Regions from separate parts of the Homo sapiens genome. Here region 1 is linked to region 2. The links come from fine-mapping of genetic effects on gene expression. Tissue or cell type: subcutaneous fat. Region 2 holds a variant in brackets; the other region holds the start of a gene. All regions are shown on one strand. Distances are from middle to middle.

What was found.
Region 1: it holds the start of SMIM38, and the variant in region 2 is fine-mapped to the expression of SMIM38 in subcutaneous fat (GTEx, PIP 0.99). The same link has a PIP of 0.9 or more in visceral fat.

What each region holds. Positions count from the first base shown.
Region 1 is chr11:69,149,388-69,165,464 of GRCh38, reverse strand. It overlaps SMIM38 (small integral membrane protein 38), which reads right to left and starts at 9,530. Exons shown (of 3, transcript NM_001369201.2): 1 at 9,351-9,530; 2 at 6,114-8,291; 3 at 3,025-6,019. The coding sequence starts at 7,618. The coding sequence ends at 7,463. All of the region lies in intron 2 of LOC338694 (a long non-coding RNA gene), which reads left to right. RefSeq lists silencers at 7,805-8,164, 11,410-11,704 and an enhancer at 9,049-9,976.
Region 2 is chr11:69,117,838-69,133,914 of GRCh38, reverse strand. No RefSeq gene overlaps it. Among named protein-coding and RNA genes, the nearest start is that of SMIM38, 30 kb to the left of the region's middle. RefSeq lists enhancers at 10,305-11,120, 10,840-11,134, 12,892-13,520 and a silencer at 10,840-11,134. The variant G/A (reference allele first, on the strand shown) is at 9,688.

The sequences.
Region 1 (16,077 bases), 32 kb before region 2:
AAGAGGAGGAGAAAGAGAAGGAGAAACAGAGAACGAAGATGCAGAAATTAGGAAACAGTCCCCAGGACCACCCTCACTTCTGACAGCAATTGGAAGTTCAGGGGTCCTCAAGTTCATCATCCTCCATTTCAACAACCCACTGAAAGTTGTAATGGTTACAGTTATGGTTTATTACAGTGAAAGGATTAAAATCAGCCAAGGGAAGGCATGCATGGGGCAGAGTGCAAGGAAGTTCCAATCTCCTTCTCCCAGTGGAGTTATGGACCGCATGAATTCCTCCCAGCAATGGTGCGTGATGAGATGCGTCGAGTATTGCCAAGCAGATGTCCCCGGAGCCTTGGTGTCCAGAGTTTTTACTGGGGCTTGATCACGATCACGTGGGCATGATGCACTGATGCCCAAGTGACTGACCTTTAGTTTTCTGCCCCTCCAGAGGTCAAAAGGAGACCACGTGACCCAAATGTCCCCTCATGACAGGCAAACAAAGATGCTCTTCTCAAGCAGGACATCCCGAGGGCCTGGAGATCCCCTCCCAGGAACCAAGGACAAAGACTAGACTTCTCTTTGGGTCAGATTCTTTACTACACTTTACTACATCCTGTCCTATAAACAGGATGACCAGCCATCCCAATGTGGCCACGACCCTCCCCATTTTAGTGTTGAAAGTCCCATGGCCCAGGGAACCCCTCCACCCCAAGTACTCACCCTATATGGAGGCACCCACCATCGCCACCCGCAAAAAATGTGATGGCTTTTTTCTGTGTCTTCTTGGCTCCACGGTAGTGACAGGTCCAGGAGCACAGGACTTGGCAGCCGTGGGGAAGGAGAGTCAGCTTCTGTGCTCTGACAGTCCAAGTGGAGTCCCCAGCCCACAGTGGTCCCCGGCCACAGCCCCTCCAACGAGGCTGTTCCTCTAGCTTATCTAGGCCTCCTAGTCTCAGCAACATGGCAAAGCCACCAGCTTCCCCTGCAGGTCACCTGGGCCCCCAGGCCAAACACCAGCTTTGTGTGGGCTTCTCCACCAGCCTCGACACTGTCAGGGTCTCGTGTCCATAATAAATCTTGTCTACAGCACCCATGGCGATTGCACATGAAAACAGACTAAAGGAAATCACTGTGAGCCCTAACTTGATCACCCACAGTGGCCAACCATGTTTCTGCTCTTTATGTTGCTCTTATAAATGGGGTCTTTCATGCTTCTCATCTAGTGGATTGCTGTGTGTATGGTTTCTCTGTATTGATCTAGACCCACTCACTTGACTGAATTCTGGTATTAGCATTTGCAATTGCTTCTGGTTGACTCTCTTCCATTTTCCAAGAAAATCATCCATCTCTCTGTAAATAATGATTTTCCTTCCCAGTGTTTGCACCTCTGATTTCTTCCTCTTTTCTAATTGTTTTTCTAATACCCAACCATCCTTGCATTTCTGGAATCCATTCCGCTCAGTTGTTGCAATGATTTACTCCCCTAATGTGCTGCTTAATTCAGGGACTTAATATTTTTACATCAATGTTCCCAAACAACACTGGTGTGTGTTTTCTCTTTCCATGCCATCTATGATGGATCTTGGCATCAATGATATGCTTGTTACATAAAAAGAAGTTAAAAATATTCCTTCTTTTATGCTTTAGAACAGTTTAAATAGTGTTTAATTACCTGTTCGTTTTTGGTGTGGTTGGATCCTCCTATAAAACATTCTAGGCCTGATGCTTTTTTTTTTTTTTTTTAAGGAAAGTCGACTTTGACAACTTTCTATTTCTTCTATGGTAATCAATTTGTTTAGACTTTACATCTCTTTTGGAGTCTTTTTTAAAATAAATTATATTTTCTATGTTTTCAAAGTCTCAAAATCTTTTATGTATCCCAGTGCCAGTTTCCTGTGGTTATTTGCCATTTTATGTCTCTGCGGTTGTTTTCCCCATAGACTTTTATTTCATTTATGTTTTCTTCTTTTTTCTTGATAGGATTGACTAACAGCATCCTTTTTTATGCCCCTGAAAAATCTGGCACTTGGGTACATTTGTTAATTCTATTGCTTCTTAATGCATATATTTCCTCTCTTATCTTTATTTCTTCCTTCTGTTTTTCTTAGTTTTTTCTATTATGTTCAATATATTGAGCCATATGCCTAATCCATATGTTTTCATTCTTTCTATTGGTTAATATGAATATTTAAGGCTATAACTTTCCCTTCAAGAATTGCTTTAGCTGCATCTCATAGGTTCTGGTTTGCAGTCCAAACATTATCACTCAACCCATTTATGCCTAGTGTTCCATTATTGGAATGCTGAGCATGTGGGAGTTATTTATATATCCTACTGCTCAAGGTCATCACCAAGGTCTGATTGCAAAAATTTAAAAAACGGCAACCTCAGGCATAAATGGACTAAGAACCTCCTCCAAGAAGCTCCCTCCTGCGTTCCTGTAACACACCATGCATTCACCCGCCACCCTTTTACTGCATTATGAAGGTCCAGCACAGCACTGTCCATAACAAAAATAATATAAGCTACCTATGTGATTTTAAATTTCCTACTAGCCATATTAAGACCTATTAAAAGGAATAGGTGAATCAACCTAAATGCCCATCAATGGTAGACTGGATAAGGAAAAAGTGGTACATATACACCATGGGATACTATTCAGCCATAAAAAAGAATAAGATCATGTCCTTTGCAGGAACATGGGTGGAGCTGGAGGCCATTGTCCATAGCAAACTAACACAGGAACAGACAACCAAATACCACATGTTCTCACTTGTGAGAACACATGGTCACATAAAGGGGAACAACAAACACTGGGGCCTACTTGAGGGTGGAAGGTGGGAGGAGGGAGAGGATCAGATAAAATAATTCTTGGGTACTAAGTTTAGTACTCAGGTGACAAAGAATCTGTACACCAAACCCCCATGAGTTTACCTGTATAACAAACATGCACATGTACCACTGAATCTAAAATAAAAGTTAAAAGTTAAATAAAATATCATGGCCAATAAGTAATGAAAATAAAAGAAACAGGCGAAATCAAATTTAATATTTTATTTAACCCAATCTGTCCAAAATAGTATTATTTCAATGCGTAATCAATATAAAACCATTACTAATGAGATTTTACATTATTTTTCTGTGCCAAGTCTTCAATAGCCAGTACGCATTTTACTTACATCATATCGCAATTTGTGGTGGCATTTTTACTGTTCAATAACCACACATGCTTAGTGCAGGTCTAATATCTGTTTCCAGGTCTCTCTGCCCACTACCCTTACCTCCCTGACTGCAAGCTACCTGAGGGCAGGTGCTTTGCCTTATTCAACATTGTATCTGTGGTGCCTTGAATACTGCAAGCACTCAATGAATGCTTGCTGACTGCTTGCAGACAGGGTGGCTCAAACAGCAGACATCTATGTTCTCACAGTTTTGAAGGGTGGAGTCGGCTGGTTCTTCCTGAGTCCTCTCATCTTGGCTTGTACGTGGCCATTTTCTCCCTGTGTCCTCACCTGGCTCTGTGTGTGTGTGTGTGTCTGGGTCCTAATCTCCTCCTCTGATTAGGACACCCATCCTTTGGATTAGGGCTCACCCTAATGACCTTATTTTAACTTTATTCCCTCTGTAAAGACCATATCTTCAAACACAGTCTCTTTCTGAAGTATTAGGCATTAAAGGTTCAACATATGAATTGGGGGGAAGACATTCCAGCCCTAACACTATCCTTTTATGCCTTTTATACATCTGCTGTCCATCATCATTATTCATTTATCCATCAATTCTTCACTGTCTCCGTTCCATGGGCTACGGTTTACATCTGTGGCTACCAGCTGTGAGCAGAGGCATGTTCCCATGTGTCTCTAAGAAGGAGCATGTCTGTCTCAGCCTTGGACTTCCTTATTAAAACATTTTCTTAGGAGGCCCCAAGGAGCCATGGGGAGCCATGGAAATCTCCAACCTCTGACTCCAGATTGGAGCAGCCAAGGACAGCTTGACTCAGCTGCTATTCCTGAAGGGCAGACAACAGCAAAACCAGCACATAAGGGTACCACAAAGGTGCCCAAATATCCAAAATAGGGTCCAAGACAAAGACCATCATTACAAAGAATGGCCAAGGGGCCCGTGGCAGAGACCACCCAGTTGCCTGCCTGATCGCCATTTTGCCTCTGTTTCTTTATAACAAACTTGGCATTCAGGATGGCTAGGAGACCAGCTAACAAACGCCACTATCTCTCAGCCTCCTGTGCATCCAGGGATGCCACGTGACATCATTCTGGCTTATGAGATGGAAAACTAAGGGTATCTGGGGACATTGCTTTCTGTCTCTGTCACCCTTTCCTTTCTCTTCCTGCCTGGAACTCGTGTAAGATGCCTGCAGTAGCAGCAGGTTTCTTGTAGCCGTGAAGATCAAATCTACATGCTGAGGGTAGCAGAGCAGAAATATGTCAGGGTCTGAGACCCTGATAACTTCACAAAGCTGTCACGCCACAGCCTGGGAATGCCAAATGCCAGACTTCTTGCTACGTGAAGAAAGAAAAACAAAATACTTTTAAAGCCTCTCTTTTTTAAGCCACTGTTTGTCTACGTGTCTGTTACCTGCAGCTGAATGCATCTGCTGCCTGAGATACGGCCAGGGCACACCCTCTCATTCATTCAGATGCCATGGCCTGATTGCCTGTTCTGAGCCAGGCACTGCGTCACAAGGCTGGAGATGCTGACACGTGGATGCAGAATACATGAATTCATCAGAATTGTGTCCATTTTCCAGGAACAGAAACCAATGAAACAGACTTAAGAAAAAGAAAAGAAATTATGGACCAGTGTAACTGAGATAGGGAGTCGGAGGAGGTTGGCAGAATCTTCCCTTCCACCATTTTTCCAGGTGGCTGTGTTCTCATGGGGCCGCCTTGAGCGTCTGTCCTCCCTGCCAGGCAGTCCCAGTAGAGGAGTCTGTTCTGACCCCTGGCTCCAGCAGAAGTCCCAGGATTCTGAGGCCGGGCATGGTAGCTCATGCCTGTAACCCCAGCATTTCGGGAGGCCAAGGCAGGCAGATCACTTGAGGTCAGGAGTTCAAGACCAGCCTGGCCAATATAGTGAAACACCATCTCTACTAAAAAATACAAAAATCAGCAGGGCGTGGTGGCACACGCCTATAATCCCAGCTACTCGGGAGGCTGAGGCAGGAGAATTGCTTGAGCCCCAGAGGCGGAGGTTGCAGTGAGCCAAGATTGCGCCACTGCCCTCCAGCCTGGGTGACAGAGTGAGATTCCATCTCAAAAAAAAAAAAAAAAAAGATGATGAAGTCCCAGGATTCTGGCTCACTGGACCAAGAGGTGACCTCAGGTATGTGTGTAGGTGCCATCCTACACACCCATGTGGACACGCAGGCCACACACAGGTTTACACAAAACTCTACAACTGGCAAGACATCGGCACATCATATGAATGTCTAACTCCTTCTATCCAGCGTGACCTGGTTTGCCCAGGACTGAGGGGTTTTCCAGGACATCGAACTTTCCATTTTAAAAACAAGACAGCCCTGGGCAACCCGGAACAGCTGGCCCTCCTAGCTCTGTCGGTACATGCTCATGACAACCATGTGATTTTTCTTCCTTAAAGAGATCAATGAAATGGTACCAGATCATGTTTTTAAAAAGCGAACAATATTTTCCTTAGAGATCAATGAGAATATCCCTCCCCACAATCCTACGATCAGGCGAGAATATTCAGGCAGAGCCCTGGGCTGCCGGTGGAGGTGGCAAATTGTCCGTGACACGGGGGAGTGACCATAGAGTTCTGCTGGCCTCTGGCTGATACAACAGAGGCCAAACTGAAATGGAGCACGGTAGCCCCTGCCCCTGTGCAGACTTCAGAGCGTGAATGAGAAGGGACCCTCTGCAATAGGTCATCTTCACGTCACCCCCTGGACACCTCAAACTCTTGGTCGGTCCCACCCCAGATGGTCTCGGCTCCTGCTCACCAGCACCCCCGTGTCTGTAGCTCTCTTGAATGGAGGATCTGAGCACAGCAAGTCCTGTAGAAACCAAAAAAAAAAAAAAAATTTCCTTGGCATAGGTGAGTGTATCGGGTGCCGCAGAAACAGTGATAACAGCGTTTCTGGTCCTCACCTGGGTTCATTCAGCCAGGACACAGCAAGGCAGAGGCTCCCAGCCAGTGCCCCACTCCATGCCCACCCTGGGGGTCCACTCGTCCCAGTCAGCAACACCAGCCCTGGAACCACCATCTAAGCTCCTGCTCTTGCTGGACGCCCCCAAGTCCTTTCAGAATTCACAGGAATCACCCCCTCTGCGAGCTTCGTGTTCAGAGGACTTGGCCCACGTTCCCTGAGCGAGCATCCCTAGCATACCCATCACCTCTCAGGGAGCAAGACGTTGCCACATCACCAGGCCCAGCCTCCCAGAGACGATATCTGGTTCGATGCTCCTCCCTGGAGCTGCCGCCCACAGTCCCTTCCATCTCACAGTTCCGCATGCAGTCAGCAGCCCTCGCTGCAATCCACGATCTGCTGGAACGATCCCAGGAAATACAGTGTGGAACTTGGACATGGGTGTTTGCCGAATTTCCCCCAAGAGGCTCGAATGTGGAGCCTTTGAGCTTCCCCAAGCTGTGGGTTAAGTCACTGGCATCACGGCTAACGTGCTACGGAGGTGGAGCAGGAGCACTGGATGCTTGGCCTCAAATCAACTTCCCTGCCCTGTCAGCCTTCCTGGGCACTTCCCAGCCACACACTTGCAGGAACAGATGAACAGAGGGCATTGATGGGTGCCTTGGCTTGTCCCCTAAATTGTCCCCTACATGATATCCTGCTGAGGGAGGGAGGCAGGGATCATTGTGCCCTAACTGTTCAGACCGTTAGAGAGTGTGCAGAGGGTCAACCAGAGCCAAGTGCGTCTGGCTTGTCAACTCAGCCTCACAAGTGCGTCCTGAGACCCTTCCCAGGGGTCTGCTCTGGAGAAATCAGGACAGCCATCGGCACTTATCTCGTCCCTTGGGAGGCAGGAGGAGACTAGTTATGAGGGTGGTGAGCTGAGACAGGACGTGGCCTTTGGTAACAGGGCCAGCTTGTGATGAGGTCACATTTGTCTCTGTGGCACCTCCACCTGAGTCCTCTGGCTTACCCAGCTCTTCCTGCAGGCATATTTATAAGGAATTGGAGGCAGAGAAGGTCTTAAAGCAAGACCCACCCCCAGGACCACTCCCTGCAACCGGGGACCCCAGAACCTGGTGATGGACCTGCAAGGCCGGCCCCTCCATCTCCCCACATGGCCAGCTGCCTCTACGGGACAGCCCTGGTCAGTCTGGGAAGGCACGATCCATCTCAGGCCTCTCTGAGCTCCTGCCCCAGGGGTGGGACATGGGGATCATGCGCCTGCCCTGCTCCCCTCCCTCCCACCACCACTGGAAGGGCCGGCTGAGTCTCGGGACAGGGCGCGTGGAGGCCGCAGCCTGCAGAGGCTTAGTCCTGCTTGGGTTTCTGGGGCCGCCGCTGGGCCAGTCTGTAGTCGATGTAGGTCCCGAGGCAGGACCACAGGATGAGGCGTGCTAGCAGGATCACCACCAGCAGGGCCAGGAGCGGGTCAGGGCCAAAGCTGCCACCTGGCCAGGAGGTCATGCCTGAAGTCAGCCCCAAAGGGCAGCAGCAGCCTCTGCCCTGGAACCGAGATGCAGTGGGGCCCTGCCACCCTAGCCCGGCACTGCCAAGTGGCTGCTGTGCAGACCCAGGACAGGAAGCTCCGTCCAGCCTGGGGCCTCTGCAGCCGGCGCCCCCAAGGGACCGCCCTGTTCTCTCTGGTGCCACCAAGCAGGCCAGATCTGCCCGCCAGACTCCAGCCCGGGGCCTCCCTGGCATGTGAGAGGACAGACTGGGGACGACGAGCAGCCTCCTTGGTCAAGAGGCCCGTGTACCATTCATCCAGAATTAACCACTCTCCGTGCTGACAATGACAGCATTGTCCAGGGGCCTGGGGGGCGGGAGGCCGCCGGGAGCCCGCCCCCCTCGCTGTCCCCGCGCCCCCTGCTCGCCAGCGCTGACGTAATCTGCAAACATCCCCGGCGGCAGCTGCTGGGCGAAGCGGCCACCTCCTCCCGACGCTTTCAGCAGCCCACGCGGCTCTTCCGGCCCCGCCAGACAATTGGGCCCTTTCTCTCCCCAATTAGCTATCACTTCTGGAGGCCGCGCCGTCCAGCGCCGGCCCACGGTCTCCGCAGCAGCAGGCCCGGGATGGGGCGGGGGCCGGGAAGCTTGGCAGGGAGGCTGGGGCCACCACGGGGAAGAAGGACGGAGCCTGAGGATGAAAAGCCAAGGAGAAAAGGGGAGAAGATGAGGACAGGCGGCCACAGCCCACAGGCGGCCCCAAACACAGCTCAGCAGCACAAGGACCGCGCTCTGGGCCTCTGATGGCAAGGGGGTCAGCGCGGGAAACCGGCTTCATCCCCCAGGAAGGGGACCGGTGGACCCCCAGCAGCACCTCCCTCCAGCTCGCCCCTCCAACCTCCATCAAGAAGCCTTAGGTGGGACCTGTAGCCCTAAGCTGGGGCGCACAGGCCTGCAGGGTCCCCTGACATCCTCACAGTCACCCTGGACCGGAGGCCAGTCCTGCCTTCTACTAGCTGAGTGACCTCGGGCAAGTTGTGCAACCTCTCAGAGCCGCAGATCCTGCCTTAGAAAGTGAAGCAAATACCTCCTGCTTTGAAGGATTAGGGGAGAGAGCACTTCTCAGGGGCCACGCCCAGCGCCTGGGCACAGAGATCCTGGCCCCTGCCTCTCAGTGGATGCCTTCAGAAAGGCCTCCACATCTTTTCTGAAATAACAGTGTCTGCCCAGCCTTCTCTGACTGCCACACGCGCGCACACACACACACACACACGCATACACATGTATACATGTGTGTGCACACAGACTCACACGTGTGCACACCCAATAAGGACACATTGACCTCTACAGGCTCTGCCCCCCAAGTCCAGCTCTGGCCTCTCACAGCCGAGTTTCTGTGAGTGAGAGATAAACCGCCAGAACTGCCCCCTCTAACTCCAAGCCTACATCCTGTAAAGCAAAGGGGCCCCAGTTGGAGCTAGGGGGCTGAGCGTGAGGAACAGAGGTCTCTGGCGGCTGGGTCCTGGGAGTCCGGCCAGTTCTCACCAGCAAATGTCCAGCCTGAGCTACAGAGAACAGCAATGGGGGCCTTCCTGGCCACAGGGATCTGGGGCCCATCGCTGGTCGCCGGAAGCCAGCTCTTCAGTTCCTTCCCAGTCTACAAAATGAGTGTCCTCCCTGCCAAGCCTTTCCAGAAGGTTCAAACGGGACCACACGTTCAAACGGGAAGTGGAGCATGATGCCAACTCACCTTGGGCCGGGCACCGCCTAAGCTGCCTTCCCGCAGCCACCCTGGAGCCCCTGCCTGGACTGGCAGAGGCTGTCTGGGAAGCATGCCTGGCCCTTCCTCCATCTGTGGTGTGCCCTGCACCCACTGGGCTGCCTGGCACTGCTGTCAAAGGCCACTCACTTAGGGAACGTTGAGCTCTGGGCTTGTTTTCCACGCGCAGCGGTTTGAAGATCACTTCGAACGTGGGTGGGGAGTTAGCTCTCTGGACCCCGTCATAGAGTAAGTCATCGATAGAGCATTTGCTTGATGGGGACTTCCAGAAGGCCAGGGAAAGTCCTGCCGACTTCCTGGGGAAGCCCATCCGCACGTGGGGTGAGGGTCCCCAGATGGGAGCAGCTGTGTATGCAGGGAGGGGGCAGAGGCTGCTGCCAATGGGCATGTCCCTTACCTGAAAGGGCCACCTCTCCAGGTGACATGTCCTGGGGGAGCCGGGGCCGTCTGCTCCGGCCAGAGGCGCTCAGCTCAGGCCACACCAGGCAGGGCACCTCCCAACCTGGACAGGTGGGGACCAAGGTGGCCTTGGACAAAACTCTCTGTGTTTGCCAAGCACCCAATCGGACACAGAGAGTCAACCACACCCCAGTCACATGGTGTCCACACGCAGGGGTCAAGGAGGCCCGGCCCCTCCCCCTCAGACGTCCCTGGGCCTCTGGGAGTCAGCAAGGACGAGGACGGCATGCCCTTCGAGACAGGAAGGGAGTGACCTCCTCCCAGCGGCATCCAGGCTCGGCTTCTCCGGAGAGGAGAGGGGGCTACTTGCTGGATAAAGCGGCCGGGGCCACAGAGAAAAAGCAAGTGACCATGAGCACGTTGCAGACACAGTGCACCGACAGCATTGCAGCACGGGGACTGTGAGACCTCCCATTCTCGGGGGAAACTCCCCAAGTCCCCCCACCATCAGCAGTGATGTGACTGGGGCGGCGACCTGTGCTGGGAGCCTCCACCAGCTCCTGCGCCTCAGGCCCTGCTGCCCTGCACCTTCGCTTCCAGTAGGACCCTTCTCCAGGGCATTCTGGGCCACAGGAGCCACCCCAGTGCACAGAGACCCGAAGGCCCAGGAAGTTCCCTCCCCCAGGCAGCCCTTAACCTAAGGCTGACCTGGGCAGGACGTAGCCCAGCTTCCCTGCTTTGGACCAGGACAAACTAGAGGCCACTCTGAACCCCCAGAGCTCCCCCTGAAAATCCCAGGGACGTGCGGCTGTGCCTGGAGTCGCCCCCTTCCCAGACTGCTCCCCTTCATCTTGCCCTCCCTGCTCCTCCCTCCTGTGTCTCCCCATCACACCACCCCCCGAGTTACCCGCCTGTGAATATAATCCAGGATAAGAGTGACGAGCGCCTCATCAGCGCAGACCCAGACCCCGCCAATGGGAACGCATGGAGCTGGGCGGTGGTGGCTCCCAGCCCCGGGCCTCTGAGGATGGATCCGGGGATGCTCCCAGCCCCGGGCCTCTGAGGATGGATCCGGGGATGCTCCCAGCCCCGGGCCTCTGAGGATGGATCTGGGGATGCAAGTTGCCATCGGGACCTCAAAGAGCCAAGGCATCTTCCTGCACCCAAATGTTCAACGCTGACAGAGCAGTGAGTGACGCACCCTCACTCACTGTTTCCTGATGAAATGCTTGGCAGAGGAAACCTCTCCACAGGTGAGCTCCGTGGGGAAGGCCTGGAGTGGAAGTAACAAGGAGGTGCAAGTTCTTGCCCCCAAAGCCTGGTCCCCGCCCAGGACCAGCCCTCAGTACAGGTGACAGCCTGGGACAGAGCCCCAAGAACCTTGTGAACAGCTTCCTGTGAGCCCCAGGCAAGCTGGTCTCCACTGAAGCATCACTGGGCCTCAGTTTCCTCCCCTCAATAAAAGGGGAAAATAATCCTAGCACTTTGGGAGGCCGACGTGAGAAGGTTCAGGAGTTCGAGGCCAACCTGGGCAACATGACAAAACCCCATCTCTACAAAAAAAAAAAAAATACAAAAATTAGCTGGATGTGGTGGTGCACACTCGTTGTCCCACCTAGCTAGGAGGCTGAGGCAGGAGGATCACTTGAACCTGGGAGGCAGAGGTTGCAGTGAGCCATGATCAAGCTACTGTACTCCAGCCTGGGCAACACCTTATCTCAAAAAAAAAAAAAAAAAAAAAAAACGGTGAGGGGATGATAATCCCTTCCCAGCTTCTGCAAGCAAGGCTGGGGATAAGAGTGCTTTGCAGGGGAAATCCCCGCCCAAATGTCATCGAGATGAGCTGGACTTGGCTGACTCAAATGCAGGACCCAGGAATAATACTGAACGCCCTCCCCCAGGGACCACCAGGCACATCCCCCAGGGCCTCAGTGTGTTGGTTGGTTTTGTTATTTTCATAGCACCAACATCCTCTGAACTCTTCCATGTGTTTCTAGAACTCGAGCTCTCGCCGAATCCCCCAGGACTTAGCACAGTTCCAGGCACCCAGAAGACTCTCAGCAAGGACGGCCACGTGCATTGGAGCTGGGAGGCCAAATTAAAAGAAGCACGTGTTTTCCTTAGAACAGATTCCGCCAAAATTGTAAAACCACCACCTACAGCCTTGTTGACAGTGAGACATTCTCAGACATGTCAGGGTCCTGTTGAAAATCATTTTTTTCTTTGTTTCTTTTTGCAACAGCAAAATATGCTTGCTTTAACCAAAAAAAAAAAAAAAAGCAACCATGGCAGAGATGGGTGAGTTGGGAGAGCATGAACATCATCAACTCTTACTCCTGCCAAGACGGAGCACAGGACATGAGGACCCCGTCCAGGGCCCACGGGGAGCCTGAGTTCCCACCCCACGAAGGCCTGTGGCCCATCACCTCTTCCCCTGAGAATGCTGCATCTCAAAACCCCAGCCGGCGCAGGCTGCCGAAATCAACAGAACATGCATTTCAAACCGGGTTTCCACTGAAATGCTCCCTACACACAGACGGGCGAAAATTAATTTTCTTTCTTCCTGCGCCACAAAAGCAGATTAAAATCACGAACAGTGGGACGAGTGGGGGGAAGTGGAGGGCTTCCTCATTGAGGGAGACCCCTGCCCGGGAGGTTTCTCTCCCTAACAAGGGATGGCCTCAGCCGTTTGAAACGCCCTGCTGCAGGCATAAAGCCCGACCCAGGAGAAGGCACTTGAGAAAAAGGACGCCGCTGCCCTCCCAACGGTTGAAAGCTGGTATGTAACTTTGCTCGGGGTGATCAAACAGCTAGTCAAGGACGCTGTCAGGAACAGAATGAAATTCCAAATAAATTAGCCATGTCCAGAAGCCAATACAACACCGGATTAAGGCTCACAAAGAAAACACAATTTATTCAGCCTACCTTGTCAGAATTCTTAATAACCCCCCTTCCTTTCCCTCACCTCAGGCTGAGAGTCCCTGGGTGTGAAGAGACAAAGTGAACCCCACTCGGGACGCTGGGCGTCTGGTGTAGACGCTGGGCATCCAGTAGATGCGCTGGATGTCTGGTGGAGCATAAGCGTTTACAAAATCGTGTTTTTAGGAACATTTCAGCGGGGGCCATACACAATCGCGTAGGGAAGGCAAGCTGTCCCCAAGTCCCACTCACATCTGAATGAGCGGGTTCATACATTAGAATACAGGAGGAGGCGGGCAGAGACAGGAATATTAACCATTTCAGCTTAACTCTTTGGGGTTTTAGTAGCATCCCTGCCGTCGCCTCAAATGAAGTGTGTTCTGGCGGAGGTGCCTGAAAGCTCTGTCTTCATTTGCACATGATTTTATCTTTTAAGGCAACAAGTAGGTGAATGGTAACTATCACCCTTTGCAAATCCTAACTGTCCTCCGTGACAACTCATTAATATATTCAGCAGCCCTAAAGACAATATCTTTTTTTTTTTTTTTATCAATGAACCCAGACGACTTTCGCAGCCAACAAACGTTCTTTGAAAGAGTTAATAGGCAGAGGTTTGTGTGCGGACTCTGGAGCAGGCATCTTTGAAGGGTCCCGGGCCTCCTCCTTGTCTTAGGCTGTGATGATGTATCTGGTTTGCCCAAAGGCCTCAGTGAGAGTATGGGGCCCTTTCTTTGTCCCCAGAGAGGGGGGTGGAGGGGCCGGGGACGGGGAGTTTGCTCTGCAGCACCGAGCCATTTGCAAGAGATAAAGCCGACAGGGAATTTGAAGGGGAGTTGGGAGGAAGTGATTGGGCCATTACTCTGAGACGGAATGTCAAGATGCTTGAGAAATACACAAAATAAAGATTTTCCCAGAAATTCTTTTAAAAGAGATGACCTAATGGTATTAAATTAAAAAAAAAAAAGATAAAAGAATTGTGCTAAGCTTGGGGAAATCTCTGCCATTTCCCAAGCCTAGATTCTCTCTTGATTTCTAAATAAAACAAGAAGGCAAACAGTGGGGACAAAGACAGGGAGACATGTTTGAGGCCTGCCATGTGCACACAAAATGATTTTTGCGAGAGTGGGCAGGAGTGTGCCTTGGAACAGGACCCCAGCCCAAGGACAATGGGCATGAGAACCCCATGATGCTCCAGGGCTCTGAAAGTGGAACTGAGCTACTGGGAGGTGCCCTGTAGTCACCAAGTATGTGCCACAAGGAAAATCTCCTGTCACCTTAGAAAGGCTGTGGTCTCCTTTAAGTTCCATATAGATTCTGGATATTAGACCTTGGTCGGATACATAGTTTGCAAAAATTTTCTACCATTCTCTAGGGTGTCTGTTTACTCTGTTGATACTTTCTTTTGCTGTGCAGAAGCTCTTCAGTTTAAGTAGATCCCATTTGTCAATTTCTGCTTTTGTTGCAATTGCTTTTGGCATCTTCATCATGATATCTTTGCCCATGCCTATGTCCTGAAAGGCTTGCCTAGGTTGTCTTCCAGGGTTTTTATAGTTTGGGGCTTTCCATTTAAGTATTTAATCCCTCTTGAGTTAATTTTTGTATATGGTGTAAGGAAGGGGTCCAGTTTTAATGTTCTGCATATGGCTAGCCAGTTATCCCAGCACCATTTATTGAATAAAGAATCCTTCCCCATTGCTTTTTTTGTCAGTTTTGTCGAAGATCAGATAATTGTAGGTGTGTGGTCTTATTTCTGGGTTCTCTATTCTGTTCCATTGCTCCATGTGTCTGTTTTTGTACCAGTACCATACTGTTTTGGTCACTGTAGCCTGGTAGTATAGTTCAAAGCCGAGTAGAGTGATGCCTCCGGCTTTTTTCTTTTTGCTTAGGAACAACCCTATTAAAAAGTGGCCAAAGGACATGAACAGACAGTTTTCAAAAGAAGACATACATGAAGCCAACAATCATATGAATAAAAGCTGAACGTCACTGATCATTAGACAAATGCAAGTCAAAACCACAATGAGATACCATCTCACACCAATCAGAATGGCTATTATTAAAAAGTCAAAAAAAAAAAAAAAAACCAGCAGATACTAGTGAGGCTCTGGAGAGAAAGGAACACTTATAAACTGTTGGTGTGAGTGTAAATTAGCTCAACCATCGTGAAAGACAGTGTGGCAATTCCTCAAAGACCAAAGAGAGAAATACCATTTGACCCAGCAATCCCATTACAAGGTATATACTCAAAGGAATATAAATCATTCTATTATAAAGATACCTGCACATGTACATTCATTGCAACACTATTCACAATAGCAAAGACACGGAATCAACCTAAATGCCCATCAATGGAGAAAGAAGTTGTGGCACATATATATCATGGAATACTACACAGCCATAAAAAGGAATGACAACACATCCCTTGCAGGGACATGGATGGAGCAATAGGCCATTATCCGTAGCAAACTAATGCAGGAAGAGAAAACCCAGTACTGCATGTTCTCACTTATAAGTGGGAGCTAAATGATGAGAACACATGAACACAAAGAGGGGAACAGACACTAGGGCCGTTTAGAAGTTGGAGGATGGGAGGGAAGGAGGGAGAGGATCAGGAAAAATAACTAATGGGTACTAGGCTTAATACCTGGGTGATGAAATAATCTGTACAACAAACCCCCATGACACAAGTTTACCTATGTAACAGACCTGCTCATGTACCCCTGAATTTAAAATAAAAGTTAAAAAAAAAAAAAACAGAGAGAGAGAAAGAAATGCTGTGGTCTCACAGCCACCCTGAGCGACATGTGTTCAGAGCCTCCCAGAGACTCCATTGTCAGTGGGTGACAGTGTTCACTTACCAGGAAGAGGAGGCTGCTCAGGCTAACCCAGCCATGACCCCCGCTGGAGGCTAGCTCTGGCACATCCTCTGGCTGGAGGCTAGCCCAGGCGTGACCCCTGGCTTCAGACTAGCTGGGGCTTGTCCTGTGGCTAGCTGCTAGCCTAGGCATTGAGAGGTGAAGCCAGCTGGACTTCCTGGGTCGAGTGGGGACTTGGAGAACTTTTCTGTCTAGCTAAAGGTTTGTAAATGCACCAATCAGCACTCTGTAAAAATGCACCAATCAGCGCTCTGTGTCTAGCTAAAGGTTTGTAAATGCACCAATGAGCACTCTGTAAAAACGCACCAATCAGTGCTCTGTGTCTAGCTTAAGGTTTGTAATTGCACCAATCAGCACTCTGTAAAAACGGACCAATCAGTGCTTTGTAAAATGGACCAATCAGCAGGACGTGGGGGTGCCAAATAAGGGACTAAAAGCTGGCCACCAAAGCCAGCAGCGGCAACCCACTCGGGTCCCCTTCCATGCTGTGGAAGCTTTGTTCT
Region 2 (16,077 bases):
CTACAACTACAAGCCTGGAAGAAAACAGAGCAGAAGTTCTGCAACTTTGAGACAGGCATGAATTCTTAGGTAGGACTCAAAAAGCACAAAGTATAAAAGAACAAAATCATAAATTAGACCTCATCAAAACAGAAATTTCTCCTCAAAAGACACTGCTAATAAAATGAAAAGACAAGCCACAGGCTACGAGACAATATTTCCAAATTGTGTACATTATAAATATCTCTCATCTAGAACATAGAAGAACTCTTACAACTCAGTCATAAGAAAAACAACGCCTATTTTTTAAATACACAAAATTTGAACTGACACTTCACCAAAGATGAAAACAGACAGCAAATAAGCAACTGGATGGCAAACTGAAAAGATGTTCAACAACATTAGAGAGTCAGGAAAGGCAAATTAAAACCACCATACACTTACTAAAGTGGCTAAAATTTAAAACTGACAATACCAAGTGTTGACAAAGATGTGGAGCAACTGGAACTCTCATACCTTGCTGTTGGGAACGTAACACGATGCAGCCATGTCAGGAAAGAGTTTGGCAGTTTCTTATACAGTTAAATGTACACTTAACATACAATCCAGTGATAATCCCACTTCTGGCATGTGCCCAGAAGAAAACATATGTGCACCCAAAGACCCGGATACAAATGTTTGCAGCAGCTTTATTCATAGCAGCCACAAGTGGAAACAACTCAAATGTCCATTAACTGGTATGTGGGAAAGCAAGCTGTGGCATATTCATACAACCCAGCCTTCGTGCAATGGTCACACAATATTCAACAGTAAAAAGGAACTATCTACAGATACACACAACAACATGGGTGAATCTCAAATGCATATGGCAAGTGATAGAGTCACAGGCAGAGAGCTGCACAATGCACACTTCCATTTCTATGACATGCTGGAAAACCACAGGAATAAAAACCAGGTCATTGGTTTCTAGGGGCTGGGGTGGGGGCAGGCGTTGACGGCCAAGGGGCAGCATTGAGGGACTTCTGGGAGACAGCGCTGTACTATGCCTGGACTACAGTGGTCGTTGCACGATTGTGTCTTTGTCAGAAGTCACCAAACTGTAAAAAGAGCCACTTTTGCTGTGTGCTAATTATGGCTCAATAACACTCCACCCAAAAAAAAAAAAAATCACTTCACTCTCCTCATCATTGAAAGTAATGACATTGAAGGAAGAGGAGCAACACTCTTTACGTGGCAGAAATGGTGCTGAACAACCAAGGAGCTGCATTCCCTGTGGTCAGGTACCCAGGGGGCCCTGGGTTCTCTCCATTTTACAGATGAGTAAACGGAGGTCTGGAGGTGCCAGGTCACCCAGTGCCACCCAGGGAGGCTGGAATGGAGTTGGGACTTCCACCCAGGCCTGACTGCAGCATCACCCCCCAAACCACTAAGGCTGTCCTGAGAGAGACCTTGGGGATCAGCAAGCCAGCCTCCTCCTCCCGTTTTCCGGAGGAAAGCATGAGGCTTCAGGGGGCCCGACCCATCCAGGCTCACGAAGAGAGGGACAGAATCAGAATCTGGAGGGAGCCAGGTCTCATTTGTCAGCAAACGCCTTCCTACGACAACCTTGGGAATAGAAAAGACCCCAAGACATGACAGGAACGAGATCCGAGGCCACGTGCAACACAGGTGCACCAGGGTAAGCCCCGCCCCTACCCTCAGGGAGCTTCCAGCCCCATCTGGCACAAGGTCACCTCCCAGACCCTGGGCAAGTGGCAGCCCAGACACACCCAGGAGTACAAACACCTCTCCACAGTCCCCTCCTGGGACACTGGGCCCCTGAGGATGATGGAAGCTGCGGGTTCCCCATGGGGGCTCTGGGGTTACAGCAGGGAGGGAGGGGGACCCATGACATGCCTTAGGCCTGTCCAGGAGGGATTCCAGCCCCAGGGAGAAGGCAAAGACAGGAACGCCGTTTCCAAGCCGGAGAAGCAGTGAGAGTCCACACCGCGTTTCCCGGTCTGCAGGGAAAGGCAACAGCTGGTGGGTGGGTCAGAAACCAGACCTTTCTGGGCTGGCTTCAGGACCTCTACACCCCACCTCGGTTCTGACCAACAGTTATGGGAGTCAGAAAATGCAAGTGCTCAGCTCTTTAGCCCAGGAATTCCCAGCCAGCAGGCAAAGCCCTCGGGAACACACGTGCAAGATGCCCCACCTAGAGGCAGGAATGTGGCTGAGGCATTTGCACCATTAGGCAGGTCTGAATACCTGAGGAGGAGAGCTGCTCCCTCAGCGCTTCCCACCCTAGCTTCCCATCATGGCTGGGCCACCTACCAGCTTCTCTGTGCCTCAGTTTCCTCATCTGGGAATTGTGGATTGCAATCCTATCTACACCCCAGTCTCTAATGGAGATAGTGTATGCAAAGTACATCTACGTAGGCCTGACACACAGCTAGTAGCCGTGTGGCAGCCAGCCCAGGGTTGTTCTTGGGAACATGGGACAGCCCACTGCCTGGAAATTTGGTGGCTCTAGGATTGGCCAGACATCTTCTGTGGAAAACCAGGCGGCCCATGCTAAGACACGGTGGCCCATCGAGATATCGCAGTCTGGGAACCTTTCCGGGCCACCCCTGGGCAGCTCGGACAGTGCCAGGGACCTTGGCCAGCTCATGCCTAGAGGCTCCCCTGCCAGGCTGCCTGCACCCTCCTCGAGCAAGGCCTGGCCTAGATGCACAGACACCCAGAGGGAAGGGGCTCCGGGACAGCAGAGGTTGGGGACAGCCTTCTGAGCCTCTGTTTAGGACCAGCACGATGCTAAGAGGACCTCCAGGACAAGAGCCGGCAGGGACCACAAGCCAACAGGCCTCTGACATCACCAGGCCTCCAAAGTCAGGAATAGATAAAATACATCGAAACACGGTCACAGGGGAACACAATGCTGGGGAGGACACCCTCTGAAGGAAGGAGGGCTCGGCTCTTTTGAAACATGGATGGAAAACTCCAGAAGACAGATATCCTTATTTATGAGGTGCCCCGATCCCTGAGCAGGCAGTAGAACCGGCCAGCCCTCGAGGCCCCCCACTGAGCTTCTGCAAGCTGCATTTCCTGGGCTTCTGCAAGCTGCATTTCCTGGGCTTCTGCAAGCTGCATTTCCTGGGCTTCTGCAAGCTGCATTTCCTGAGCTTCTGCAAGCTGCATTTCCTGGGCTTCTGCAAGCTGCATTTCCTGGGATCGGATAGCACTTCCTCCCCGACTCCCTGGGAGCATCCTCTACAGTGGGGAGCCTGAGTTAACAGAGGCGGCCGCTGAGGCTTATGGAAGTCATGTTCCCTCTCAAGGCCACACAGCCAGACATGGCAGAGCCAGGACTGGAACGTAAGATTCTGATTCCAGTGCTCCATCTCTTTCCCTGGCCCGCCTCCCTGCACATGCAGATTCCACCTACCTAGCAAACCCCCACACCCACTCTCATCACGCCATCAAGGCCCCCACCCAGGAATGGCAAGGTTCATCACCTTGAAGGAACACTTAGATTCCTTCTTCCATTTAAAAAAATTATTTTATTATTATTATTATTATTATTGAGACAGGGTCTTACTCTGTCATCCAGGCTGGAGTGCAGCAGCACAATCTCAGCTCACTGCGGCCTTGAACCTCCCAGGGTTCAAGCAATTCTCCCATCTCAGCCTCCCTAGTAGCCAGGACCACAGGCATACACCACCACACCTGGCTAATTTTTGTATTTTTTGTAGAGAGATGGTCTCACTATGCTGCCCAGGCTGGTCTCAAACTCCTGGCCACATGTGATCCACCTGCCTAGCCCTCCCAAAGTGCTGAGACTGCAGGTATAAGCCACTGCACCCTGCAAAGAATTCTATTGATCTAACTATGCCGGAGTAGAGACAGATCAATATTATACATTGTATTATTTCCTGGGCCCGCCATAACCAATTACCACAGGTGGCTCAGAATTGTGGGAATTATTCTCTCACAGCTCTGGAGGCAGAAATCCAAACTCAAGGTGTCGGCTGGGCTGGGTCCGCTGAAGGCTCTCAGGGAGGGTCCTTCCTTGCCCCTGCCAGCTTCTGCTGGTTCCTGGCGTTCCCTGGCTTATGGCCGCATCCCCCCAACCTCTGCTTCCATCGGCACATGGTCTTCCCGGCCTGTGTCTCTGGATCTCTTCTTCTTATGAGGATACCAGCCATGGGGTCAGGGCCCACCCTGCTCCAGAACTACCCCCTCTTCACTTGACTACATCTGCAAAGACCCTATCTCCAAAGAAGGTCATATTCTGAGGCTCCAAGTGGATGTGAATTTTGTGGGGATTTTTTTTTTAGTTAACACATAATAACGTACATATTCATAGGGCACATGTGATATTTCAATACATGTATATGATCCCATTTCAACAAGTAACGATCACAGCAGGTGACTGGTATGTCCATCGCCGCAAACATGTATCTCTTCTTTACGTTGGGAACATTCTGATTCTTCTCTTCTAGCTATTTTGAAATATATAATAAATTATTAACTGTAGTCCCCCTACTGTGCCATAGAACACTAGAGCTCATTCCTTCTGCCCAACTGTAATTTTGTACCCATTTACCAATCTCTCCCTATTCCCCTCTCCCCGTCACCCTTCCCATTCCCTGGTCCCCAGGCTCATCCACTTTTCCTCAAATGACAGAATTGCATTCTTTTTTATGGCCGTATAGTATTCCATTATGTATTTGCACTTCATTTTCTTTATGCATTCATCCATTGATGGGCACATAGGTTGATTCCATCTCTTAGCTATTGTGACTACCACTACAGTGAGAATGTGGGTGCAGATGTCTCTTTCACATGCTGATCTCCTAGTCTTTGTATACATACCCACTAGCAGAATTGCTGGGTCATATGGTAGTTCTGCTTTTAATTTTTGGAGGAATTTCCATACTGTTGTCCATAATGGCTGCACTATTCTAAATTCCCACTAAGAGTGTATAAGAGTTACTTTTCCCTGTATCCTCACCAGCATTTGTTGTTTGGTTGTTTTTGTCTTTTTGATAATTTTATTTCTATTTTAAGTGGGATGAGATATCTCACTGTGGTTTTGTTTTCTGTTTTTTGTTTTTGTTTTTGTTTTTGTGATGAAGTCTCGCTCTGTCACCCAGGCTGGAGTGCACTGCCACGATCTCCACTCACTGCAACCTCCACCTCCTGGGTTCAAGCAATCCTTCCACCTCAGCTGGAATTACAGGCATGCATGACAATGCCCAGCTATTTTGTGTATTTTTAGTAGAGACAGGTTTCACCATGTTGGCCAGGCTGGTCTCAAACTCCTGACCTCAAGTGATCCACTCGCCTCGGCCTCCCAAAGTACTGGGATTACAGGTGTAAGCCACCACGCCCAGCCCTCATTGTGGTTTTAATTTACATTTCTCTGATGATCAGTGATGTTGAGCATTTTTTTCATATACTTGTTGGCCCTTTGTATGTCTTCTTTTGAGAAATGTCTATTTAGAATACTTGCCCATTTTTAAATCTTATTTGGATTTTTTGCTGTTGAGTTGTTCAAGTTCTTTATATGCTTTTGTTGCCAGGGCTTTTGAAATCTCAGCCATAAAATCTTTGCCCAGACCAATAGCCTGAAGTGTTTCCCCTATGCTTTCTTCTAGTAGTTTCATAATAAGTCTTTAATCCATTTTGAGCTTTTTGTGTGTATCGTGTAAGGTATGGGTCCAACTTCATTCTTTTGCATGTGAATATCCAGTTTTTCCAGCACCATTTATTAGAAACTGTCCTTTCCCCAACACATGTTCTTGGTGCCTTTGTTGAAAATCAAGTGGCTATTAATGCATGGATTTGCATCTGGACCCTCTATTGTGGTCCATGTGTCTATGTGTCTGTTTTTAGCCAGTACCATGCTGTTTTGGTTACTATAGCTTTGTAGTATATTTTGAAGTCAGGTAGTGTGATGCCTCCAGTTTTGTTCTTTTAGCACCAGATTGCTTTGGCTATTGGGGTGTTTTGTGGTTCCATATGACTTTCAGGATTGTTTTTTTTCTATTTCTGTGAAGAATGTCATTGCTATTTTGATAGGGATTGCACTGAATCTGTAGATCACTTTAGGTCATATGTGGGGACATTATTAACCATCATTTCTTCAACCTAAAAGTTCATTTCTTTCTTTTGATTTTAAAAGACATTAAAACATCACTGTGGGTCCCTGCAAGTATCATGGGCCCAGGCGCAGTGTGTCCTGGAGGTGCCACCCCATCTCCATCCACCCCAGCACCTGGCACATTCTCCCGGCACACAGTAGGTGCGCACCAGGCTGCCTTCCTGCAGGGGTCCCAGCAGCTAGAGAGAGGTCAGCTCGCCTGTGCTTTCTGCTCCCCCTCCCCAGTTATCACCTGTGCCTCCTCCTGGGTGCTGGGTGGATAATGTTCTTTGCTGTAATCTGCTCCTTCCGAGGGTGCCTTCCCACTGGCCGCCCTGCACAAACAGCCCCACTCTGGCTGCCACCCGCCCGGCTCCAGACTCCTGATATGAATGCAAAGGTTAGATATTCTTGACACCGCTTTAATTTTTCAAATAGCAAGCCAGTTACCAAGCACGTTGGCACCTGGGCTCGGTTCCCCCACGACTTGGCAGGGCCCACGCAAGCTGCTGGCAGTGATGGATGCATGCCCCTCGGCACACCCCCCCCCCACCCACCCACCCGGCCGCAGCCACGCCAGCCCCAGGACCTCACGCAGCCAGTCCCCGGCAGCTGTAAGGCCCGAGTGCCAAGACACAGAGTGGGCTTTTCCAAGCGCCGGGATCCGGCTGGGCGGGCTTCCCAGCACGGCCTCTGGGAAATGTGTGCAAGGCCTCCGTCAATCTGTAGGGACTAAGCTGCTAGGAGGGCCTGGGGCTGAGCGATTTCATGTTTTTTCCCACCCACCTGGCCTCACCCTCCCTCAGCCTCCTCGCCAAAACAAAATCACTTTAAAAATAAAAAGTAACAGGCAATGCAGAGGCTCTCAGAGCTGGATGGAACTTAGCCATCAGAGGGTCCCATTCACTCATGGTACAGTTGGAGACACTGAAGCTGCAACCAGGAGGCTGAACAGCCAAGACTAGAGCCAGGGTTTTGGCTATCAGAGGGGACAGTCGCTCAGCAGTTCTCAGGAGCATGCGAGCCAGGCAGCCGGTCCGATTCCTAGCTCTGCCACTCGTGAGCTCTGCAACTCCGGGCAAATCTCTTCACCTCTCTGTGCCTCAGTCTCCCCATCCACAGAGTACAACCCACACAGGACCTGCCTCTCAGGCTATTGTCAGGACGACGGTGTCATCAGCATATGGGGAGAGGTGGGCCTCAAGCAAGGCTGGACAGTCGCCGCATGGGGTACAGAACCCTGGAATGGTAGGGTCCCTGAGGAAGGTCAGAGTCAGACCCCTGCGGCAGGTGAGACACAAAGGCCATTCCGGACCGCACTCCACAGTGAGGCCAGCACCCGCATCCATGCACCAGGCCACCAAGAAGGGCCGTCTGTCCGCCAGGCACCGTCTGGTGCTGCTAGGTCTCTGGGAAGGACTCCAGCTCCTGACTTATGGGCACTGGCAAGTACTAGGTAGACAGACTGGAGCTCGAGGGGACATCAGAGCCCTCTGGACAGGCCCAGAGAGGGGCTGCATGTGGCCCAAAGCACCCAGCCCAAGGACTCAGACCCCACCAGGTTGTGTGCCCTCCTCAACCTCATAGCAGATAGGGCTCTGAGGCAAAGCCCCTCCCCTGCCTGCCTCCCTTTTGAGAAGCCTGAAGCCCCATCTGATCAGCCCTCGAATGTCCACTAAATGCCTCTAAACAGGAGGTGGGGTTCAGCCTCTCACAGACAAGTGTGCCTGAGAGCCTCAGGTGAGCCAGGGGCCACTCAGCAGAGGCACAGGCTGGAGGGACAGGGCCCTGGACAGGTGCAGTTTGATGAGGGTAGAAGGACACAGATGACGCCTGGGCCAGCGTCACCCACACACCAGCCCCTGGCCACACAGCTGCTGATCACTCTGTACATGGCTGGTGAGACTCATAAACTGTGGGGGTTTTTTTTAAATATATTTAATTTTAATTATTTTACATTTAAAAACTGAAGCAATAATTGGATTATTTGTAACTCAGAGGATAAATGTTTGTGGGATGGATACCCCATTCCCCAGGACGTGCTGATTTCACACTGCATGCCTGTATCCAAACATCTCATGGACCCCACAGGTACATACACCTACTACAGACCTGCAGAAAAATTCATTAAATTTAATTTTTAAAAACTGAAGCCATGTGGGCCAGGCGCAGTGGCCCACGCCTGTGATCCCAACACTTTGGGAGGCCAAGGCAGGCAGATCACTAGGTCAGGAGTTCGAGACCAGCCTGACCAACATAGTGAAACCCTGTCTCTACTAAAAACACAAAAATTAGCTGGGCGTGGTGGTGTGCACCTGTAATCCCAGCTACTCAGGAGGCTGAGGCAGGAGAATCGCTTGAACCCGGGAGGTGGAGGTTGTAGTGAGCCAAGATTGTGCCACTGCACTCCAGCCTAAGCGACAGAGTGATACTCCTTCTCAAAAAAAAAAAATTAAAAATACTGAAGCCATGTGAAATAGCCTCTTGTTCAACACAACTTTATTGTCTAGGTAGGACATTCAACATGTAGTGTCTGAAGTAAGAGGTGCTCTCAATGTAAGTACCAGGTTTTTAAGACTAGTACATACAAAAGAATGCAAAATATCCCAATAATTTTGATTATGTGCTGTTTCAATATTTTGGATGGATTGGGTTAAATAAAATGTGATTAAAATTCATTTCACCAGTTTCTTTTTACCTTTTTAATGTGGCTACTCAAAAATTGTAAATTATCTCTGTGGTTCGCATGACAAATGCTGCCCAACTTACGATGGGGTTACGTTCCAGCAAACCCATCCACTGAATCAAACGCATTGAATCCACCTGAACATCATAGCGCAGCCTGGCCCACCCTATGTGTGCCCAGATCACTGCCATTAGCCTACAATTGGGCAAAATCATCTAACACAAAGCCTGCTTTATAATAAGATGTTTACTATTTCATGGAATTTACTGATGTTCTACTGAACGCATATGGCTTTCACACCATTGTGAAGTCAAGAGATCCTTAAGCTGCATCCTAAGTTGGGAGCCATCTGTCTACAGCTGACCCTTAAACAACACGGGTTTCAACCTATAGGCAGGTTTTCTTCCACCTCTACCACCCCTGAGGCACAAAGACCAACCTCTCCTCCCACTCCTCCTCCTCCTTCCTACCCCTCCTCCTCTGACTTAGCCTCTTTGATGTAAGATGACAAGGATGGAAACCTTTATGATGATCCACTTCCACTTACTGAATAGTAAATATATTTCTCTTCTTTATGATTTTCTTAATAACATGTTCTTACTTTATTGTAAGAACACAGCATGTAATACATGTAACATACAAAATATCTGTCCATCAACTGTTGATGTTATCAGTGAGGCTTCTGGTCAACAGTCGACTATTCGTAGTTCAGTTTTGGAGGAGTCGAAAGTTACATGCAGGTTTTCACTGCATGGGGGAGGGGGTCGCAACCCTAACACGTGCATTGTTCAAGGGGAAACTGCGTGTCTGTTGGGCCCCAGTGTTTTGGGGCCTTTGCTGATTTGCTCCTTTTGAACTCGCCAGTAAAGGTGGTAATAAACGTAGCAGAACCCTCGCC[G/A]GCCCTCCCGAGCACCAGTCTGGGAGCTAAGCTTACATTCTCCAGCTGCCCTCAATGCCCCCGCATTCCGACAAGATAGGATCCATTGATCCCTATCCGGGCCCAGAGAGATGGAGTAACTTGCCCAGGTCACACAGCAAGGCCTTGGGGGACCTCATATCTACAGGCCTGAGGTGGAGGCCCTGGGAGGGCGCCTGGTCTCCTCTCCTCCCTCCAGCTCCTCAGCCACATTCTGCCCTGGATTTTCTCGGGGATTGGGGGCCTTTCTCAGTTCCTAAAACCAACAGTGAATCCAACCCCAGGAGCGCCTCCTCTGGCCGCTGTCTACTGGAACCAGGGGAGGAGAGAAGTGAGACCAGAGACTGCAGACCTTGAAGGCTAGAACAGGGAAGGGGGAAGTGGGCCAGCGGGGAGGGTCGTGGCGGGGGCACCCAGGGGTACAAAGGTACTTAGCCCCTGCAAGGGCCAGGAGGGAGGGCAGGGGGAAGTAGGAGGACCCCACCCGTCGCCCACTCAGCAAAGGACTCTTGGGCACCTGGCGCGCACTCACCACCATGCTCAGTGTTGGGTGCAGTGGTGGGTGGGGCCTCAACCTCACAGAGCTGGCATTCGGCGGCAGGGACAGGTGCTGACCACCCTAATGGTCAAGCGGAATGCTTGCAGGGTGCAAGGTCACAAAGTTCTGGGTTCAAACTCTAGCTGGGCCCCACTATGTGACCCTGGGCTACCGTGGGCTGCAGCCCGCTGGCGTGAGGAGAGACCTCAAAGGTGCAGGGAACTCTGGGGCTTCCCCCACCACGGGTAGAGGAGATTCAGAGGTCTCCGCAGAGCGCACAGAAAAGCCAGCTCTGCCCCAGCCCCCTCCCCGCCCTCACACCCAGCCTGAGCACTTCCTTCACTCCCTGGATCAAGGCTGCATGCAAGATGTCACCGGCTCACTGGCTCTGCAACCTACGTCTCTGCAAACCACTGATGCCGCCCACTCCCGCCTCTCACAGGGAGCTGACTCGATTTGCCCGAGGTCCCTGAGCTGGCAGGAACAGATCAGAGTGTTCTGGCTCCCCTCCCCCCGCCCCCCCGCCATGGGTCTAGCAGATTAAAAGAAAACTTCCCCAGGAAGGCTGCAGAGACACACCCAGCCCTGTTTCTGAGATCACAGGCGAGGAGCCCAGAGGCAGGGACAGAATGACAAATGCTTCTTAGGGGACCCAAATGCCTCCCGTTCTGGGTACAGAGTGCTGCCCTATTATCCACCAATGCAGAGAGCACTGCTGCAGGGCGAGGGCTCCGGAATGTTTGCAGGACGCATAGCAGAGCTGTGAGTCAGCCGAGGCAGGGAGGAGGCCGCACAGCAGGGCGGGCAGGTGGGGAGCCGGGCGTGAGGTCAAACCCTCCATGCAGAACTAGGGTAAACAATGGCCCAGGACCAGCCCTTGGGCGGCATTCTCCATGGCCCAGCCCAGGTAACATCGGAACTGTGCCCAAGAGGAGGAAAGGCACTCGCCAGGAGGGAAGCCATTTGCCCTGGGTCCTGCCGGGATTTGGGGCCAAGATTCTGGACTCCCAGCACAGTGCTCTCTCTTGGCCAAGCGCTGCCTGGGCATGGCTGTCCCTGGATATAAATGAAACCTTGTAGATTTGAAGAGTATTCTAGCCGCCCCGGAAGGCTGGCTGCTCAGAGGTGCTGTCTCACGATGGGATCATATACGCAGACATGGGGCCCTACCTCAAACTGGCCGTGCGACCTGGGGCAAGCCACTTATGGGTCTGAGTCCCAGATGCCCCACCTGGAAAAGGGACAGGAATTCCTACCACCCCAGGCACATGTACAGTTCCAATGAGATAAGAACCGAAGCACCCGCTGTGTGCCAGGCACTGGGTAGGGGCTTTTCACGTGGTATCTGTTGTCTGTGCTGTACCCTCTCCACGTTAGGGAGGCAGAAACTGGCATGTGGAGAGGCCAGCTTGCCGTCGGCCACACTCTGAGGATGTGGCAAGGCCAGAATCTGCAGGTTCATGCCCTCTGCAGTGCAGTGCCTCCAGCAGGCTCCCAGAGGGCATGGGACCCTCCGCCCCAACCCGCCTGTGAGCCCCTCAGAGCCTGGGAAGACACGTGCGGGTGCAGCTGCAGGGAGGGCAGGGCTGATCCAAAGGCTCCTTGGGGTGGGGAAGGATGGCTGAGCCGGGATCCACTTTCCACATGGGTCCTGAGCACACTGCTCTTCACTCCAAGTTCTCGGCCACTTGGGATCACGCTCTTCTTTAATTCTCCAAGCAATGCCTCCCACTGCCCTCGGAGCAGTACACTCCACCAGGGGCCTCCCCAGAGTCCCTGGGGATCGGGCTGAGACAGATGGGCAGGGGCTTGACTCCCTCCGAGCTGCCCTCCGCCAGCTGCCTCCACTCCTGTTCTCAGGCCCACCTTGCCCCCTGCCCCTCACTGGGCACCCCAGGGTCATGGTGGGGGCAGGCGGTCCCAAAGGCCTAGGCTCTGGATGACTTGCATTGAATAACGTTCCACTGCTCCCAGGACCCCCGTGCAGGGTAGCACTGTCTCCCTCTCTCCAGCACCTCTGCCTGGCTCCCACGGCCCTCCCCCCCGACCAAAACCACCAATTCCGAGCCTCAATGATACAGAGTGGTCCAGCCAACCTTTCACCAGCTACCCAAAAATCCCAGGGGAGGTAGTCAGCTGGGCTTGATGACAGCCACCCCAGCCCTGGGGGAGCCACTCCCAGGCAGGACACCTCCTGCCTCTCAGGTCATACCCCTTCCTAGATGCCCACATCTGTATGATGGGGATGAGAAAATCTTCTCTTTATGGAAGAAAATCTACAGAGAGCCCTGAGCAGGAGCCTGGCATGGATATAACACGCACCCAACAGCTGCTGCCACTTCCTTCCCTGGGAGGGCCTTCTGCAGCTCGGCGCCCTCAGCCTGTGCGTGGCTTTGCCCCCTGCACATTTGGTAAGTGAAGCTCAAGGCTGAGACCAAAGGCACACAGGGGCGTGTGCATGCTTGAGTCTTATGGGTACGTGCTGTGTGCCTGTGTGCATGCATGCCCAGGCAGGTACGTGTGTGTGGGTGTGCAGAAACATGTACGTGTGTGCATGCATGCCCAGGCAGGTACGTGTGTGTGGGTGTGCAGAAACATGTATCTGTGTGTGTTGTGTGCAGAAGCATGTACATGTGTGTTGGTGTGCAGAAGCATGTATGTGTGTGTGCATGTTTGTATAGATGTGTTGTGCCTGTGTGTGCATGTGGGCAAGTATATGTGTGGCTCACATAAGAAAGTTCCTTAAATTATAACACCTTGGAGTATGTCACACTTATTGCTGCCATGATTATAGCAGTGGTCACTTTTGGGTGCCTGGTGAGTGCCCAGCTAAGCACTTGCCCGGTGAGGGTCCCAGCCAGGATTGAATTCCAGCCTTCGTGACTGCAGACGGGCACCCCCCACCTGCACCTGGCATGTCAGGGACCTAGCACACAGGAGCGTGTGACCACCTGACCCAAGAGCTCTGCAGCAAAGGGCCCAAGCCCATTTGCTGGATCCTGAGCCGCTATTGCGGCTGGACTCTCACACGTGACCTGTGCACCCGACCTGTTTGCCACATGGCACCAGGCCCTTTCTGACCGCACCCCCCTCTCGTCCCAGCCAGCAGGCATCAGCAGGACCCTGGGAAAGCAACAGTGATGTAGTCAGGGCCACCTCCTCATCTCCTGCTCCATGCTAAAGAGAGAGCCAGACCAAGACTGGAGGTCTCTAGGAGGGACAAATAGAGCCACCAAGTCCTCGCAGAGGAGCAGCCCCTGCATGCTGCTGTGAGCGTGGGGTACCCCACCTCCTCACACCAGCCCCACCAGCAGGAGGTCGACGGCCACGTTCTACAGGTGAGGAAACTGAAGCGCAATGTGGACCCTGCCTGAGGTTACCCAGCTAACATGCTGCAGCCGCGGTGCGAAGCCAGCCGTGGCTTCCATTCAGACATGCTACTCCAAGGAGACCCCCAGACCTCCCCAGCAAGGCTGCCCTCTCTCCCCACCCTGCTTCCCCAGGGGGCTGAGTCTCTGATCCCATGAGAATGCAAGCCACAAGGATAGGACTTGGTCTGTTCTGTCCCCTGCGGTGCCCCAGCACTGTGAGGTGTGCTTGGCTCATGGAAGGTGTTCAGAAAGTGCTGAATGAATGGATGAGTGTGTGAGTGAATGAATGAATGGGCTGCTTCAGTCTCGGCTCAGAGTCAGGGTCCTGAGGTCATTTGCGGGTTGGAATCTTCATTCCACATTGGGTCGCACAGCCTTATGCAAAAGTCACTTTACCCCTTGGCTACTCCACCCGTAAAATAGTGACAGAGCTACTACAGGGGCTGGTGGTGGGATTACAGGGGTGAGGCCAGTGCTGGGCACAGTGGTACTGGCTGCCACTCTCCCCATCTGGATCTCAGGCCTTCAAAGCCAGTTTGTCCCTAGTGCCCTAACTCCAGAGGTTCCTCCAGAGTATCTCTCCCAAGAAACCCATGGTTGGTATCCAGGCCCCTGAGAAGCACCTGAGCTGCCCTCCTCATGTGTGTTAAGTCCATCCACTTAACTTTGGGGAGAGGCCACCCAAATCCTCACGTTCTGAGAGACAAGAGTCTTTGCCAAATGTATCAGTCAGGATGAAATTTGACCCCACGTAAATTTCCTATCATGTAAAAGAAGTCCAGGGATAGGCAGTCTAAGGCACCAAGAAGTCAACAGGAACCAAGCTTCCTTCCAACTAATTCACCACTCCCAGGGTGTGGCTCTCAACCTCATAGTCTAAGATGGCTGCAAGAGCTCCAGCCATCACATCCACATTCCAAGCAGCAAGGAATGTGGAAGGGAGAAAGGAGGTGTGCCTAATTCCCTGGAAGGAGACTTCCTAGAAGACCCACGCTGCTCACATCTCATTGGCCAGAACTGAGTCACACACTCAGTGGTAGAGCATGACAGTAATGACCCCTAATTTATTCACACTCCCTCATATGACTGTTTGACAATGTCACTCCTCCCACCAGGAGATGAAGTTTATTTCTCCACCCCTGAATCTGGACTTGGCCTGTGACTTGCTTTGTCCAAAGGGACGAAGCAAACAGGATGCAAGCAGAGGCTGGAAAAGCTTTTGTGCATGCAGGCTGCTATGTCGGTACCGGGACCTCCCGCCAGCACATGAGCAAGGCCGGGCTGATCTCCTGAGGATGAATGAGCACATAGGGAGAGCATCGCTGTCCCAGCAGAGGCCCCCAACATGGGAGAGAGGCCATCCCCAACCATCCAGCCACAGCCAGGCCAGCCCGGATCAGAAATCTTGCTTAGCCAACTCACAGAACCTGGAGAAATAATGAACCCTCGCTGTTTTAAGCCACAATGTTTTGAGGTGGTTTGTTACACTGCAAAAGCTAGCTGATACACTTCTCCAGCAACAGGGAGGCTAGGCAATGCAGCCTACTCAATGGACCACAAAGCTCCTACACTGGATTTTTGAGTCTAAAGGGAAAGGAAGTAGGCCCAGTGGCTCACGCCTGTAATCCCAGCTACTGAAGAGTCTGAGTTCAGAGGATCACTTGAGGCCAGGAGTTTGAGACCAACCTGGGCCACACAGCAAGACCTTGTCTCCAGCAAAAACAAAAAAATTGTTTTAATTAGCCAGATGTGGTGGCTCATGCCTGTAGTCCCACCTACTCAGGCAGCTGAGGCAGGAGGCTCACTTGAGCCCAGGAGTTTGAGGTTTGCCAGGCTGGAGTGCAGTGACAAAATCATTGCTTAAGCTATGATGCTGCCACTGCACTCCAGCCTGAGTGACAGAGCAAGACCCATCCCCAAAAAAATAAGTAATTAGGCCAGATGCAGTGACTTATGTCTGTAGTCCCAGGGCTTTGGTAGGCCAAGGCGGGCAGATCACTTGAGCCCAGGAGTTTGATACCAGCCTGGGCTACATGGTGAAACCCAATCTCTACAAAAAATACAAAAATCAGCCAGAGGTGGTGGCATGTGCCTATAGTACTAGTACAGTCTAGGCACTGGACTATACTATAGCAGTAGTCCCAGCTACTTGGGAGGCTGAGGTAGGAGGATCACTTGGGCCTCGGAGGTCGAGGCTGCAGTGAGCCATGATTGCACCACTGCATTCCAACCTGGGTAACAACGCCAGACCCTGTCTCATAAATAAATAAATAAATAAATAAATAAATAAATAAATAAATGGAAGGAGAAAGTGAACATAGGACCCAAGCTCAGTAGCCCCCACCACACCCAATTCCTGCTCTGGCCTTGCCCCCAAGAGTGCAGAAGAGAGGCATGGTAGTCCTCCCCTTGCTCCGAATTTCTGTTCCTGTATCACCGTGATGCCAGGCCATTTCAGGAAGG